Regions from separate parts of the Homo sapiens genome. Here region 1 is linked to region 2. The links come from fine-mapping of genetic effects on gene expression. A gene starts in region 2. The other region holds a variant in brackets. All regions are shown on one strand. Distances are from middle to middle. Region 1 overlaps C1D (C1D nuclear receptor corepressor). Region 2 holds the start of C1D (C1D nuclear receptor corepressor).

What was found. PIP is the estimated chance that this variant, and not a neighbour inherited with it, causes the effect.
Region 1: its variant is fine-mapped to the expression of C1D in whole blood (TOPMed, PIP above 0.99).

The regions. Positions count from the first base shown.
Region 1 is chr2:68,038,154-68,046,492 of GRCh38, forward strand. It overlaps C1D (C1D nuclear receptor corepressor), which reads right to left. Exons shown (of 5, transcript NM_173177.3): 3 at 8,191-8,257; 4 at 7,835-7,890; 5 at 2,977-4,900. The coding sequence ends at 4,736. Among named protein-coding and RNA genes, the nearest start is that of C1D, 21 kb to the right of the region's middle. The variant A/G (reference allele first, on the strand shown) is at 4,783.
Region 2 is chr2:68,059,184-68,067,504 of GRCh38, forward strand. It overlaps C1D (C1D nuclear receptor corepressor), which reads right to left and starts at 3,821. Exons shown (of 5, transcript NM_173177.3): 1 at 3,775-3,821. RefSeq lists enhancers at 3,389-4,588, 3,510-3,919, 3,672-4,172.

The sequences.
Region 1 (8,339 bases), 21 kb before region 2:
AGAAGCATAATCCCAAACTCTGCCTTAATCTTCACAGGTGTTCTCCCTGTGTGCATGTTGTGTCCCAATTTCCCGGTTTTATAAAGGCATATTGGATTAAGATCCACCCTAATGAATTACATCTACTATGGCCTTATTTCTAAATAAGGATACATTAAGAGGTATTGAGGTGTAGGACTTCCATGTATGAATTTTAGGGGAACATAATTCACGCCATAGAAGCCATTTATCACATGATAAAAAGTTTGACAGCTCCCAACCACTACAACCATGTTTGGATAACTGCTGAATCTCCTATGCCTAAAACAGAACATGGTACACAGGAGTTCAATAAATATTTGTTGAATGAATGAGTGAATAAATGAATGAGACTGCAAGTGAGGGAAAAAAAAAACTGTGGATGCTAAGAGGTTAGCCAAGCTAAATCATTAGCTGAATAATGCCTTCCTGCATGGAATTTAGCAGGAATTAAGATTATGTCTTGGCAAAATTACAAAATAACTCTATACTCCATGGACCTCTAAAAGTCACTCACAAATAGTAAAAATCACAAGTGTTAAAAGTCACAAATGTCAAAACCCACAAAATCCAGCAACTTTTAAATAATTATCTCTTTCTTAAGGGAAAAATAATAAAGTATCAAAACTAGGGAAGCAAATTATTTGTTTAAGTAAGGAATGCATTATTAGTGAGATTAAAGGCCATCAAATGAAAAAAAATACCAGACACACATTAGAACATGGTCTATAGGCAATCCAATGCTCTAGCACTAAATCAGAGGTGATTCTAATTTTGCTATTTTAATAACTAAAGTTTTTTGTGTAAGGTCCAAGACAAATTGTACTCTATAACAAAGTGGGTATAACAAGCTTCTATTCTTTTTACAATAACATTTTTCAACATAGCATCTCAATAGATAATACCTACATAACAAGAAATTGAAGGCATTCTTTCTCTTCCTCCTAATAATCTCATTCAAATCATATCACTATGAATTGCCTGGGTACTTGGCTTTAAAATATTGTATTACTGTAAGCTTGAAATTCAAGCTCTGGATAGGTCTACATTCATTTCAGCAGAAGCATCTTGAAATGCTGAATTATCATCTTCAATTTTCTTCATTTATTGCAGCTGCCAAACTGAAATGGTACACCTTAAAGGCAACACTAAACTGAAAAGCAAATAATAAAAGAGTCTCTTAAATGTTTCATTTATAAAAGCTTATTTTTCCCCCATCAAATTTTGTATACTGTCTGAAATATATCACTTTACAAAACTGACATCTTGCATACAGTTATTCTGCTATGATAGATTTGCTAAACTTCAAGGCTAATTGTGGGGAGAGGGAGTAAAAACCAGCATCTCGTTTCAACCTTTTAAGAACAGATGACTAACACAGAGCTGGTGGCTTTAGGTTTCTAGCTGGGCAGGGAGTTGGGAGATATAAAGTTAAAAATTAAACCTCAATTGCCAATAGCTATCACTATAGCTCTCTCTTTTCTGAACACTTTACTAATCTTTCTGGCTGTGTTAAAAATTATGCCATAATCTCAGACTTCTTGAGGGAATAATAAAAAGTTATGCCATAAATAAGCACTTTAAAAAGGCACATCAAGTCAGAGGGTGGCTATTCTAAAGAGTAGTCTATGGCTGTACACCCACTTTGATAGGAAAATGAATATGCAAACCAAAAAACATTCAAATCATTTTCTTGAAAGCCCGCTAACAGGTAATATAATAGCAAATTATTCAAATGAAACAAATCTACAGAATTCCATTATAAAATCCTGTATACTTTCTGCCAACATAGTTGTTAATGACAACTATAAAATGCTAATATATGAACAAAATATGGCTTGTATTTCCAAAACTGGAGAGTTTTAGATCAGAATATAGGGAAAGATAGATGTTTATATTTGTAAATTATGTTCACGTCACATTGATATAAAATACGTTGCTACCAAGATCATTCAGGAAAAGAGCCACTGAATTTATCTGAGCAGGTTTTCTAACTATGCTATGAAGGGAGAAAATGAGACATCAGTGCTTTTTCTTCCCTTTAGATACCAAATTTAGCTATTACATGAGGCTGAGTCACTGTTCACATCTTTCTTAGTTAATGTCACTTTGCAAAGCCAGAATTTCTGGTAACTTATTGAATAAAATTATAATTTAACTGTATGATAAACTGAGTGATTCCTAAAGTATCTTTTTCTCCAGTGACCTACTTAAGAAAAAAGTATTTACATTCAATACGCTGTCCATTTTTGAAGTCTTTCCTACACTTCTGGTCAATTTTAAATACCTTATTTAGAAATAATGCCAATCCATTTCTAATTGCTAAGTAGAAGGATTTTTTAATCTACAGGGTATCTTAAAACTAATCAACCTGACATAACTTCCTAATTCCAGGAATGTAACATAATTCAAGCTTCAATTTTTCACTCAACATATTCTGTTTTACTAAAAGGATTTCCCACCTTACAACTATGAACAAGAAAAAATTTGTACTTAAAATAATATTAAAATGCAAGATCTCATTATTTAGTACAAGATTAATAGACTATAATTCTAATCTTAAAAATATCTATAGATGCAACTTCTCCAACTTGTTAATTCCCAAAGAGATTAATAAAAGATGTAATTAACATCTAAACTTAGAGCAGACTATCATGTGGAACAAACTATTTTAACAAGAACTGCACCATAGTCAAATAGATCAACCACACACATCACCCTTTATGGTTCTGAATAAGGTTAATGAGCACAATTTGTCATAAATTTTCCCATAACTCTGAGAAACTGAATTGAATAAAAAGACTATTTTTTTCTTAACACCTTATAAAGATAGGATAAAGGCCGTAGTTATCGTCTTTGGAACGTTGCACCTAGCACTGTATCTGGCAATATAAATGTCATTAAGTATATTTGTCAAAAGAATAAACAAACAACAAGCAAATAAGCAACCCAATGCACTACAGCCATTCAGCTCCTTATTACGTGCTAAGTATTTAAAATTATACATAATAAAATGGAATATACTCAAACTTTTATTTCTACCTAATAATGAAAGAATTACTCACTTAAAAGTTACACAATTTAACAGAACGTAGAGGTGCACTTTCATAAACCAATAACTTAGCTAAAACCAATAATGATTTTCTGCAATTGTATAACATTTTTCATTTAAGCTGTTTTTCTTTTATGAAATTAGAAAATATACAGAAATCCAAATAAATTTCTTTGCAATAAATAACACAAAGACAGGTACACTACACTTGATCTTAACAGTAACACATTTCTCTCATGAAGAGGTTATTTTTAAAAATAGCTAGAAATTTGGAGACAAAGGCAAAAAAAGGAGTAAAATAACTATAAATGTTCACTAATGTTCTTCCACTTCAAAAACTGACATCAGAGACAGAAAAGACCTTCTGCGTCTATCAGTGACTTCCTCTTCATGTGTCATAGAAAGAGTTCAACATGCTTTACAAAATCCATTACATTTTAAGACCATTTCCAATATCTGCTATCATAAATCAAGAAATCCATTTATTCAAGGTTACTTATGGAGAATTAATCACACAGAAAATTTTAACAACTCCTTTTTCAAAAATTAAAGTACTTTACTATACTTGGCATTCCTACACATAATGATATGGATTCAAACACTGAAAGCATTAAGGGCATATAATTAAAATTCATGGGCTTAGACATTTAAAAAAAGGTTTACTATGTAGTACTCTCTGTAACTAATATTCCAGAAAAATAAACCACAATACAAACACAGTGTAATCTCCTTTGGACTTCTCATCTGCTTAAGTGGCATTAGGTAACTTAAGAAGTTGTTCCAAAACACTTGTATGTACTTGATACAGCCTCAAAAACATGAAATAAAAAAAATCTGAAAAAAAATGAGATGAAAAGAACTGTGGACACCATGCATCAGGAACAAAAACTCAAGAATTTCTCTATTTGTGATGACTTCTAAAACCTATCTTCCTAATTTGGAAGGCAAATTTACTCAAAAGATAAAAATACACAGGTCAGTTATACAACATTTTCAGCCTTTATTGAGAGTACAGTCATCATGCCAAAATTCATCCATCAACATACAACCTTATTTCCCATCTAAAGTTAATGAGAATGTATTTTATTTTAAATGGGACATAGAGGCAACATGCCAAGAATTAAAGTACAACCATAAAGTTTTAGTTTCACACTTTGAATATCAACAAAGCAGTAATTCCTAAAATCATGAAAACATGATAAAGTATCTATACAGAAAAAAATGAACATTTAAGTCATTTCACGCTTTCTTAATATCATATAGTGAAAACAGATGTACCTATAATTTCAGCCTACAGATAGCATACTTCATAAGGTCATTATTCATTTAAAATAGTACAAATGTTTACAAAGAACATTTCACTTAAATTTCACAGCTGCTTATAAAATGGTACTTGCAAGACTGACCTATATAAAGAAATAAGAGTCTCATCAAGAGATGGTAAATTATAAATATATAATATATCACAATGTTAAAATCCTCAGTGCTAATCAATAAAGATAATGATCTTTGGAGAGGAAAGTATTTAGCTTTACATATTTACTGTGAATTTACATATTAATAAGAAACACATTTAAACCTTGCCCTGCCACAGAATTATTTTGCGGGGGGGGGGGGGGGGGGGAAGATGTACTTTTTGAATATGTGTACATCAAAACCAAAAAGTTAACTTTTACTTTTTCCTTTATTGGCAACTTTTGATGCATTTTTCG[A/G]TTTTGGTTCCCAGAGGGCATTTTTTACAAATCTTGAAGCTGCACCTCTGTCCAGCTTGCCAGCCTTTTTCTTGTCTGTTATTTCCTTGACTCTGTTCATATATACTCTGATTCTTTCCTTAAAGATAAAAAACAAAGGCAATAGATTTACTAAGCTATTCGCCACCACTGAATTTTATTATACTGTACACCTTGGTTAAATTCAACATATATGTATTTATTGCCTATTAAAGTGCATGGTGCTAGGAAATGCAAATGAATAGGATAAATACGCTCCCTGCTTGCCTGGAGTTCATAGTCGGAGGGTGGGGAAAGACAGATGTTAAAAAGTCATTTCAGAAGTCTTCTGTTTCCAAAGAGTTAGAATCACACTAAGACATTACTCCAGAAATAAACATCGAATTGAAAGTTTCTAGGTGGTTATACATTTTTGAAAAACACCATTAACATAAATCTACATATTAACTGTTTTGTATCTAAAGTAAAAAACCGGAGCTTTCATATACTTGCAAAATACAAACTAAATTCTCCTGAAATTTTTCTAAACAGGAAATACATGAGGTAGTACTTAACTATCTTTTCACATTACCATCTAGTGTAACAATTAGGGAGAATGAAAATACAAATTATTCAATTTTATAATTTTGGTAAGTACATGAAATTTTCTAATAAAATATACAGTTCTAATCAGACTTTACAGGGTGAGAAACATAATATGTTGCTGTACCACTGTGAATCTTCTGAGACAATTAATCAGCATAAATGGCTATCTTACGCTTCAAATGAAGAAATAAAGTTGATGACAGCCATAAAACAGCAGAGTAAAAGACTGATCACTGCTTAAAAACAAGCTTTATTAAAATAATCAACATAGTTAATGCAGAATCTTAAAATGTTTTCATTGTGAAAGACTGGCAACTCTGCTCCACACTCTCTAGTGACGTCCCATTTCTGTCTGAATAAAAAAGCACAGTGCTTATGATGGTGGATACTAGCTACAGCACACACACACCAACCTGCCTTGGGGTCTTTGCCCTGCTTATTCCTCTGCCTAGAAGGATATTTCCTCAATTACCCATACGGCCACTTCCTCTCTTCCTTCCAGTCTACTCAAATGTTAACCTTGTCATTGAGGCCCTGACTTCAGCATTTAAAACTGCAGTCCTATCCAAGCACTCCAGTCCCCCTTACCCTACTCTTTTTCTTTGTTCCCATAACTTTCCAACATACTACATATTCATATATATTTCTTATTTGTTTACTTTATTATTTGTCTCCCTCCATTAGATACAGTCTGGTGTCTGCCACAAGGGCAGGGATCAGCATTACTCACAGAGGAATCATCTCTCACTTGGAAATAATGCCTAGCTCCCAGTAAGCACTCAAATATCTGTTGAATGAGTAAACTGACTTTTCCCATTTGTGATACATACGGCAAATAAGTTTCCTATCATACACTAAGTCTGTGATCAATTAGTAACATCTACGCAAGGTCAGAAAAGGGGAACAGGCTCTGTAATCCCAGCACTTCGGGAGGCCGAGGCGGGCAGATCACGAGGTCAGGAGATCGAGACCATCCTGGCTAACATGGTGAAACCCCGTCTCTACTGAAAATACAAAAAATTAGCTGGGCGTGGTGGCAGGCGCCTGTAATTCCAGCTACTCGAGAGGCTGAGGCAGGAGAATGGTGTGAACCCGGGAGGTGGAGCTTGCAGTGAGCCAAGATCACGACACTGCACTCCAGCCTGGGCGACAGAGCAAGACTCCATCTCAAAAAAAGAAAAAAAAAGAAAAAGAAAAGGGGAAGAGGTTTATGCATGCTTTTTATTCACCAACCCTTATCTAGAATATTAATGTACTACTTCAAAAGTAGATTCTGAGGTAGAAAGAAAACAAATGACCTTGTCCTTTCACAAAGACAGTATCAAGTATTCCAAATAACTTCATGTTAATGGAAAAAAGAGAAATTGTATGCAAAGTCTATATTAGGAAGTTGAAAACAGATGATACAAGCCATCATTTTAAAGGTTTAAAGCCGTATCACTGGTCAAACCAAGACCTGCATATCATATTGCTTTATACTTTTGCTTTAAATATTTTTCACAATTGTTTTATTTAAAAATAAATTTATTTTCCCCCCCAAGAACTTCAAAATAAGGAAATGTCTTAGACTACATGTTGAAAAACTGAAGACAACAGATCTGGCTTACTCATTTTTAAAAAGTAAAGGACCAAGTGCTTTACTAAGCTGTAAATAACATACATATCAACTACCCTAAAACTTGAGAACAAGAATACAATGTCAAGTGTATTTCATATCTATATTTGCCTTATATTTTATAAACACAAAGAATCAATTTATTAATATTCTTATTCATAAAACCAAGTCAAGAAGGTAACCATAAGTTTGATTTCTAATTTTTCTCTTCAAATTGAATGATTTGATTTAATTTTTGAAGTCAGCAAAAACTCCAAGATACCAGACCTTATATACTGTACTTATACATCTAAATGGAATACAAAGACAAACCTAGAAGATTTATTACAGGTTGTAAATATGTCTAATGCAGAATTACTGGACAGTACACATACAGCTGGTGCCAAAAAAGCTTTTAGCTTTGTTGCTGAACTGGATTCTTTACTGCTGAGAAAATGAATTAATGGAGGAATTGAAAAGGTGGGAGGGAGAAACTTTCCCGTCTTTGCTAGTAAATCAACTAGAATATACTTTTAAGAACTGTACAGAAGTTTAAAAAAAAAAGTAGTTCTAGAGATAAACAGGATTTCAAGAATTTATAAGAAAAATAATATGTAAGTTATAAATAATTACTAGAATCGTAACATTTTCCCATTCCGAGATTTATATAATATATGGAATACCAATTATCTGAAAAAGGTAAGAGAAAAAAAAACCCAAAGATAATAAGGTCTGGCTCACTTTCATAATTTCAACTCGAATTCTGTTCTCCCTAATTTGTGTGACAAAGGTAGTGTGACAAACCTCAGGAATACAACAACAAACACATAAAATAAAAAGAAATTAAAATCTTACCAATTCCTGTTTTACTGGATGTTCCTTAGGATTAACTCCTTGGGTTGCCAAATAAACTACAAGAGAAAAATTTCATGGAATAAAATGGTGAATGTATTAATTTAAAACATTCCAATTAAAGAAACTAGTTATTCACAAAAAAGGAAAGTCCTACAAACAATTAAACTTTAAATTATTCAATTTCCATGTAATACTAAATCTATGTGTGGCTCACTGGCATCTAGATTTAAAAATAAGTATCTATTAAAAGTGTTATAAAGTATAATTGTAAATAAATTGTTAGCATTTTAAAAATAAATCATCTTTCACACAATAAGTAATTTGCTTTCTAATTAATTCCAAAGTAACACACATACCCCAAAACATTGAATTTAATGTGTATGCAGAAACCAAATCCACTTTTGCTTGTTCAAGTGGATCCAACTGTTAAAAAAGAAAGAGAGAGGGAAAGAGAGAAAGTGAGACAGAAAAAAAATACACAAACTTTGAACACCATCTGATAACA
Region 2 (8,321 bases):
TTCTTTTAAACAACCGGCTCTAGGAGTGAACTAATAGAGTGAGAACTCAACTCATTACCTCAAGGACAAACCAAGACATTCAATCTGCCTCCATGACCCAAATATCTCCCACTAGGCCTACCTCCAACACTGGAAGTGACATTTCAACAAGAGATTTGGAGGAGACACATACCCAAATCATATCAACCTCCTCTTCATAACAGTCTCCATTTTCTTGGCCTAGTGAAACTTATCAATCCTTTAAAACCCACCTCAAATGCTCCCTCCTCTATAAAGGTGTCCATACCTCCCAAACAAAAGTGGTCTCTTCTTCCTCTGCTCCCAAGGTTCTCTGAATATAACTGTAATACAGTTATCACACTGGTGTGCAACTATCTGCTTGACTTAACATTATCACATATCTATCAATAACACTCCTTAAGTTCTTGATAAATCCAAAGGTGTCAATCTTCATTTCACCTGATCCATCAGCTGCACCTGACAAAACTGAACATACTACTCTACTGTAAATTCTACAACACCAGACTCAAAATTGTCCTTGTCCCTCACTGGCTGCTCAGTCTGTCTCATTTGGTGGTTATTCCTCATTTTCCCAACTTGTTAAAATGCCTAAGGACTCAGGCCTTGTGCCCCTTCTCTTTTCTGTCTACATTTACTCCTTTAACGACTGTCTCCGGTCTCACAACTTTAAATACCATCTGTTCACTGACAATTCCCAAACGTCTGTTTCCAGCAATGACCACTCTGAAGTCCAGAATGAACATATTCAACTGCCTACTCAACATCTCCACTTAGATGACTAACAGACATCAAAAACTTATCATGTCCTTAACTGAACTCCGAATCTTCCCACAAACCTGCCCCTCCCACAGTTTTCTACTTCTCAGTTAATGGCAATTCCCTTCTTCTAGTTGCTCAAGCCCCAAACTTTGACAATAACCTTATTCTTACAATTCACTTTCAATCTGTAAGCAATTCTGTTTGCTTTTCCTAGAAAATACATCTAAAATTAAACTGCTTCTCCACCTTCACTTCTTTCCAGCCAGTTAAGATGTTATCATCTCATCTGAACTACAACACCTCCGTGATTAGTCTCCTGGTTTTCACCTACCCCACCCCACAGCAAACTATTCTTAAACACAGCAGCCAGAGAAGATTCTATTAAAACGTGAGTCAGGCTGGGCGCAGTGACTGACGCCTGTAATCCCAGCACTTTAGAAGGCTGAGACAGGCGGATCACCTGAGGTCAGGGGTTCGAGACCAGCCTGGCCAACATGGTGAAACCCTAACTCTACTAAAAACACAAAAAATTAGCTGGGCATGGCGACGGGTGCCTGTAATCCCAGCTACTCCGGAGGCTGAGGCAGGAGAATCGTTGGAACCCAGGAGGCGGAGGTTGCAGTGAGCCGAGATTGTGCCACTGCACTCCAGCCTGAGCAACAGAGTGAGACTCCAAAAGAAAAGAGGGGCGAGATGGGGTGGGGCAGGGCGGGCAAGGGCAGAGCAGGGCAGGAAAGGAAACAAAAGAAAACAAAAGACAATAAAGTAAAATAAAATAAAATAAAACAAACCTAAGTCAGATCATGTCACTCCTCTCCTCCTACCTTTCCATTGGTTATTTACTCACTGGGCTATTGCTCAAGGGAAGATTCATGTCGAGGCACATTTTGAACTCCACATCACTAACATAATGTCTTGTCATGTATTAGTTAGTTAGCAACTATTTGTTTACTAACTAAAACCAATCAAAGTAACCTAAGACGTAATTTTGGAAACTCTTAATATCAGATTACAGTTTGAGCTTACAGATACTAGAAAGTCACCACATGGATCCAAACAAACATACGATAATGTACATTCCAGGGCTCTTCCCATCTCTACACCAAATAATTATACACAGTTATGAACTAAGCCAAAGAACAAATCCAACATGATTGTTTTTTGGAATTTGAGAGCCATTTGCTGTTGTTGCACCAGAATTCTATTACTGTAATGAATTACTGTAATGACTTTTTCGCACTGCATTATCTTAGGAGAAAATAACAATGAAATGTACACACAAGTTCTCAATAAATATTGCTGTCTTGGGCAAACAGTGACTCCATGTTAGTGTTGTCTGTAACTCTCCTTCAGTCCCACAGTACAATTCCTGAGTAAATATAGACTTCTTCCTTTTCTAAAAAATATATTAACATCTAAAAATAAATTTATCCCAAAGTCTAATAGGAGAGTATATAAATTACGAGGATATTGCTCAAGATTGAGATGAACAATTACATTAAATTAAATTCACTTCTATTCAAAGTTTAATTCAAAGCATTTCCAAAATTACAGCAATCAAGCAGCAAAATTACCTTCCAAAACATATGGAAGTTGATTATTACAATTATCTTATTTCTGAAATAAGAGTATATAGTGTTGTTGCACAGATTAAATAAACTAGATAAAAGCCATTAGAACGGGGCCTGGCTCAGTTAGCACTCAATACATTAGATAGTATTTTACTAAAAGTGAAAATTACCAAATACTCTAATCCAATGTGAACTATTTAGAGCCATGCTTGAAGGGTCAACTTTGGAAACAGTAGCTGAGATAATACATATGAAGAGCCATTTGAAAAGGTAAAAGCAGTTAAGAAAAAAATTACATTACTTTTGAACTGTGATACATACAACACAGCTAACTGAAGGCAGCTGTAGTATCTTTTGACTGAGAATTTTATTTTGAAAAACCGTTATTCACACTTGTCACTATCTTTCAACAAAACAATGAGTTCTATCATTTCCACCAAACACAAACATTTCTCTGTACTTCAATAGGGCTAATCTGTTGTTTTTGAATCAAAAATACAGAGTTAAATAACTAAAAGTATAACTGGATTGTTTGTAACACAAAGGATAAGTGCCTGAAGGGATGGATACCCCATTTTCCATGTGATTCTTACATATTGCATGCCTGTATCAAAACATCTCGTGTACCCCATAAATATATACACCTATGTACCCACAAAATTTTTAAATTTAATTTTTTAAAAAATCACGGTTAAGTCTTGGTTCAGTCCACCATCAGACAGTCCTAATAGGTTAATAAGTGGATAGCAAACATCTCATTGCGACAAATACATCTTTATCAAGCCAAAACTGAACTGTAGTCAGCAAACATTGAGGACATTAAAGCTATTTTGAAACAAGTTTGAGTTACACTGAACTTATCCGGGTCATCAAGAAAAACTGCTCTCTTGGATTACCCACTACAGATTTCAGCTAAAGGTCGAAATTAGCCCACTATCTCAGATGAGCTAATACTGCAGCAGCAGGCAGTCTGTGAATGTGAATGATAAACGGAGCTAACACAGTAAAGTTACTCCCCTAGACGTTCCACTTTAGCCTCTCTCCCTAAGCAAGATTGAAAACAGCTGAAAATTGTGAAGACTTCAATGTTTTTTGATTTTTGTTTTTAATTTCTTCGTCTTCCAAGATTTGAGAAGGGGGTGGTTAACAAACGAAGAAAAAGAGAGAGACCGGAGCAAAAGAGAGAAATGAGGGGCCGGGGTAAGCCAAAGCCTGCAAGCAGCCCCAAAACAAGCGGAAGTGGGGGACCTGCCAACAATGCTGCCCCAACGAAGAGCTGTGAGAGACTGCATTCCTGGAAGGCTACGCAGCCAAACTCCGATTTTCTCAGTCTGCCCAGAGGATGACAGGGGAATCCCAGGAGAGGAAAAGCGGAGTTAAACAGGAGCAGGAGAAAAACTGAAACTACACCTTAGAAAAATACCTCACGGCCTTCGACTCCAGTCTCCCGGAAAGCGGTCGGGCAACGATGACGACAATGACGCGCCGGCTCTGCCCCCGCCACGAGCGGCGCTTCCCGATGATCTCACGCTGCTCGCCACGCCCCCTGCTCCTTAACTCTTCTCCAAAGGCAAATCTCATTTTGAGTAGCTCAGACCCATGTTGTGGGAGACGATTGCGGCGGCACTCGGAACTTTTGTCTACCTTTGTACCCGGCTAACACTCACCCCAAATACAGGTTGAGTGTATTTAACCAGGAAAAAAATCTTAGTTATCGAAACTTTGTTCGGGTTTTTACTTTCCCAGAAGCTTTTTTCAGGGCCCTCATTCTTTCTACCCTTTTATTGTCTGCCTCTAGATGAGCCTCTTAGAGCAGCTTCCCAGATTATCCGTGGGGAAGAACAGGTTCTTTATTAGATTATCCGTGGGGAAGAATGGGTTCTTTATTTTTCCAATCTGTCAGTAAAAGGTACTTCTATAAAATACAGTAAAAATGAATTAGTAGAAAAATGGGGAAAATATGTGCAAAATACAAGCCCAAATTTTTTATTAGTTTCAAATAAATGTAAAATTGCATTTCAATGTATGCAATCAGAACAAACATAATAGAAAATAAAGGCATTAACAGAAACTGTACATACTGTTCATTGAAAGTGTAGTATAAGCGATTGAGCATTGTCTTAACATTTGTAACTTGTCATTCCACGGCTGTAATTTGATAAAAAGTTATGCATGAAACAGTTGTCCGTATATTAAATGCATGTAAAAGCATTTTGAACAAGCACCATGTATGTAATATTTAAAGTTTTGGGGGAGGTTCCAAAGTGGCCGAATAGGAACAGCTCCAGTCTACAGCTCCCAGCATGAGCAACGCAGAAGATGGGTGATTTCTGCATTTCCAACTGAGGTACCGGGTTCATCTCACTGGGGCTTCTCAGACACTGGGTGCAGCCCACAGAGCAGGGCGAGGCATGACCTCACCCGGGAAGCACAAGGGATCAGGGAATTCCCTTTCTTAGCAAAGGGAAGCCATGATAGACGGTACCTGGAAAATTGGGACACTCCCATCCTAATACTGTGCTTTTCCAACGGTCTTAGCAAACGGCACACCAGAAGATTATATCCCGTGACTGGCTCAGAGGGTCCCACGCCCACGGAGCCTGGCTCACTGCTACCACAGCAGTCTGAGATCAAACTGCAAGGCAGCAGCGAGGCTGGGGGAGGGGCGTCTGCCATTGCTGAGGCTTAAGTAGATAAACAAAGTGGCCAGGAAGCTTGAACTGGGTGGAGCCCATCGCAGCTCAAGGAGGCCTGCCTGCCTCTGTAGACCCCACCTCTGGGGGCAAGGCATAGCTGAACAAAAGGCAGCAGAAAGTTCTGCAGACTTAAATGTCCGTCTGACAGCTTTGAAGAGAGTAGTGCTTCTCCCAGCACGGAGTTTGAGATCTGAGAACGGACAGACTGTCTCCTCAAGTGGGTCCCTGACCCCCGAGTAGCCTAACTGGGAGACACCTCCCAGCAGGGGCCAACTGACACCTCATACAGCTGGGTGCCCCTCTGAGATGAAGCTTCCAGAGGAAGGATCAGGCAGCAATATTTGCCATTCTGCAATATTTGCTGTTCTGCAGCCTCCGATGGTGACACCCAGGCAAACAGGGTCTAGAGTGGACCTTCAGCAAACTCCAACAGACCTGCAGCTGAGGGTCCTGACTGTTAGAAGGAAAACTAACAAAAAGAAAAGACATCCACACCAAAAACCCATCTGTACGTCACCATCATCAAAGACCAAAGGTAGATAAAACCACAAAGATGGGGATAAATCAGAGCAGAAAAGCCGAAAATTCTAAAAATCAGAGCGCCTCTTCTCCTCCAAAGGAATGCAGCTCCTCACCAGCAATGGAACAAACCTGGACAGAGAATGACTTTGACAAATTGAGAGAAGAAAGCTTCAGACGACTGGTAATAACAAACTTCTCCGAGCTAAAGGAGGATGTTTGAACCCATTGCAAAGAAGCTAAAAACCTTGAAAAAAGATTAGACGAATGGCTAACTAGAATAAACAGTGTAGAGAAGTCCTTAAATGACTGATGGAACTGAAAATCGTGGCACGAGAAGAACGTGACGCATGCACAAGCTTCAGTAGCCGATTTGATCAAGTGGAAGAAAGAGTATCAGTGATTGAAGATCAAATGAATGAAATGAAGCAAGAAGAGAAGTTTAGAGAAAAAAGAGTAAAAAGAAATGAACAAAGCCTCCAAGAAATATGAGACTTTGTGAAAAGACCAAATCTGCATCTGAATTGTGTACCTGAAAGTGACTGGGAGAATGGAACCAAGTTGGAAAACACTCTTCAGGATATCATCCAGGAGAACTTCCCCAACCTAGTGAAGCTGGCCAACATGCAAATTCAGGAAATACAGAGAACACCACAAAGATACTCGTCGAGAAGAGCAACTCCAAGACACATAATTGTCAGATTCACCAAAGTTGAAATGAAGGAAAAAATGTTAAGGGCAGCCAGAAAGGTCAGGTTACCCACAAAGGGAAGCCCATCATAGTAACAGCTGATCTCTCGGCAGAAACTCTACAAGCCAGAAGAGAGTGGGGGCCAATATTCAACATTCTTAAAGAAAAGAATTTTCAACCCAGAATATCATATCCAGCCAAACTAAGCTTCATAAGTGAAGGAGAAATAAAATCCTTTACAGACAAATATACTGAGAGATTTTGTCACCACCAGGCCTGCCTTACAAGAACTCCTGAAGGAAGCACTAAAGATGGAAAGGAACAACTGGTACCAGCCACTGCAAAAACATGCCAATTGTAAAGGCCATCAATGCTAGGAAGAAACTGCATCAACTAATGAGCGAAATAACCAGCTAACATCATAATGACAGGATCAAATTCACACATAACAATATTAACCTGAAATGTAAATGGGCTAAATGCTCCAATTAAAAGACATAGACTGGCAGATTGGATAAAGAGTCAAGACCCATCAGTGTGCTGTATTCAGGAGACCCAACTCACATTCAGAGACACACATAGGCTAAAATAAAGGGCTGGAGGACGATCTACCAAGCAAATGGAAAACAAAAAAAAGCAGGAGTTGCAATCCTAATCTCTGATAAACCAGACTTTAAACCAACAAAGATCAAAAGAGACAAAGAAGGCCATTACATAATGGTAAATGGATCAATTCAATAGGAAGAGCTAACTATACTACCTATACATGCACCCAATACAGGAGCACCCAGATTCATAAAGCAAGCCCTTAGAGACCTATAAAGAGACTTAGACTCCCACACAATAATAATGGGAGACTTTAACACCCCACTGTCAATATTAGACAGATCAACGAGACAGAAAGTTAACAAGGATATCCAGGAATTGAACTCAGCTCTGCACCAAGCAGACCTAGTAGACATCTACAGAAATCTCCACCCCAAATTAACAGAATATACATTCTTCTCAGCACCACATCACACTTATTCCAAAATTGACCACATATTTAGAAGTAAAGTACTCCTCAGCAAATGTAAAAGAACAGAAATTATAACAAACTGTCTCTCAGGCCACAGTGCAATCAAACTAGAACTCAGGATTAAGAGACTCACTCAAAACCGCTTAACTACATGGAAACAGAACAACCTGCTCCTGAATGACTACTGGGTACATAACAAAATGAAGGCAGAAATAAAGATGTTGTTTGAAACCAATGAGAACAAAGACACAACATACCAGAATCTCTGGGACACATTTAAAGCAGTGTGTAGAGGGAAATTTATAGCACTAAATGCCCACAAGAGAAAGCAGGAAAGATCTAAAATTGACACCCTAACATCACAATTAAAAGAACTAGAGAAGCAAGAGCAAACACATTCAAAAGCTAGCAGAAGGCAAGAAATAACTAAGATCAGAGCAGAACTGAAGGAGATAGAGAAACAAAAAGCCCTTCAAAAAATCAATGAATCCAGGAGCTGGTTTTTGAAAAGATCAACCAAATTGATAGGCCACTAGCAAGACTAATAAAGAAGAGAGAATAATCAAATAGACACAGTAAAAAATGATAAAGGGGATATCACCACCGATCCCACAGAAATACAAACTACCATCAGAGAATACTATAAACACCTCTACACAAATAAACTAGAAAATCTAGAAGAAATGGATAAATTCCTCGACACATACACCCTCCCAAGACTAAACCAGGAAGAAGTTGAATCCCTGAATAGACCAATAACAGTTTCTGAAACTGAGGCAATAATTAATAGCCAACCAAAAAAAGTCCAGGACCAGACGGATTCACAGCCGAATTCTACCAGAGGTACAAAGAGGAGCTGGTACCATTCCTTCTGAAAGTATTCCCATCAATAGAAAAAGAGGGAATCCTCCTTAATTCATTTTATGAGGCCAGCATCATCCTGATACCAAAGCCTGGCAGAGACACAACAAAAAAAGAGAATTTTAGACCAATATCCCTGATGAACATTGATGCAAAAATCCTCAATAAAATACTGGCAAACCAGA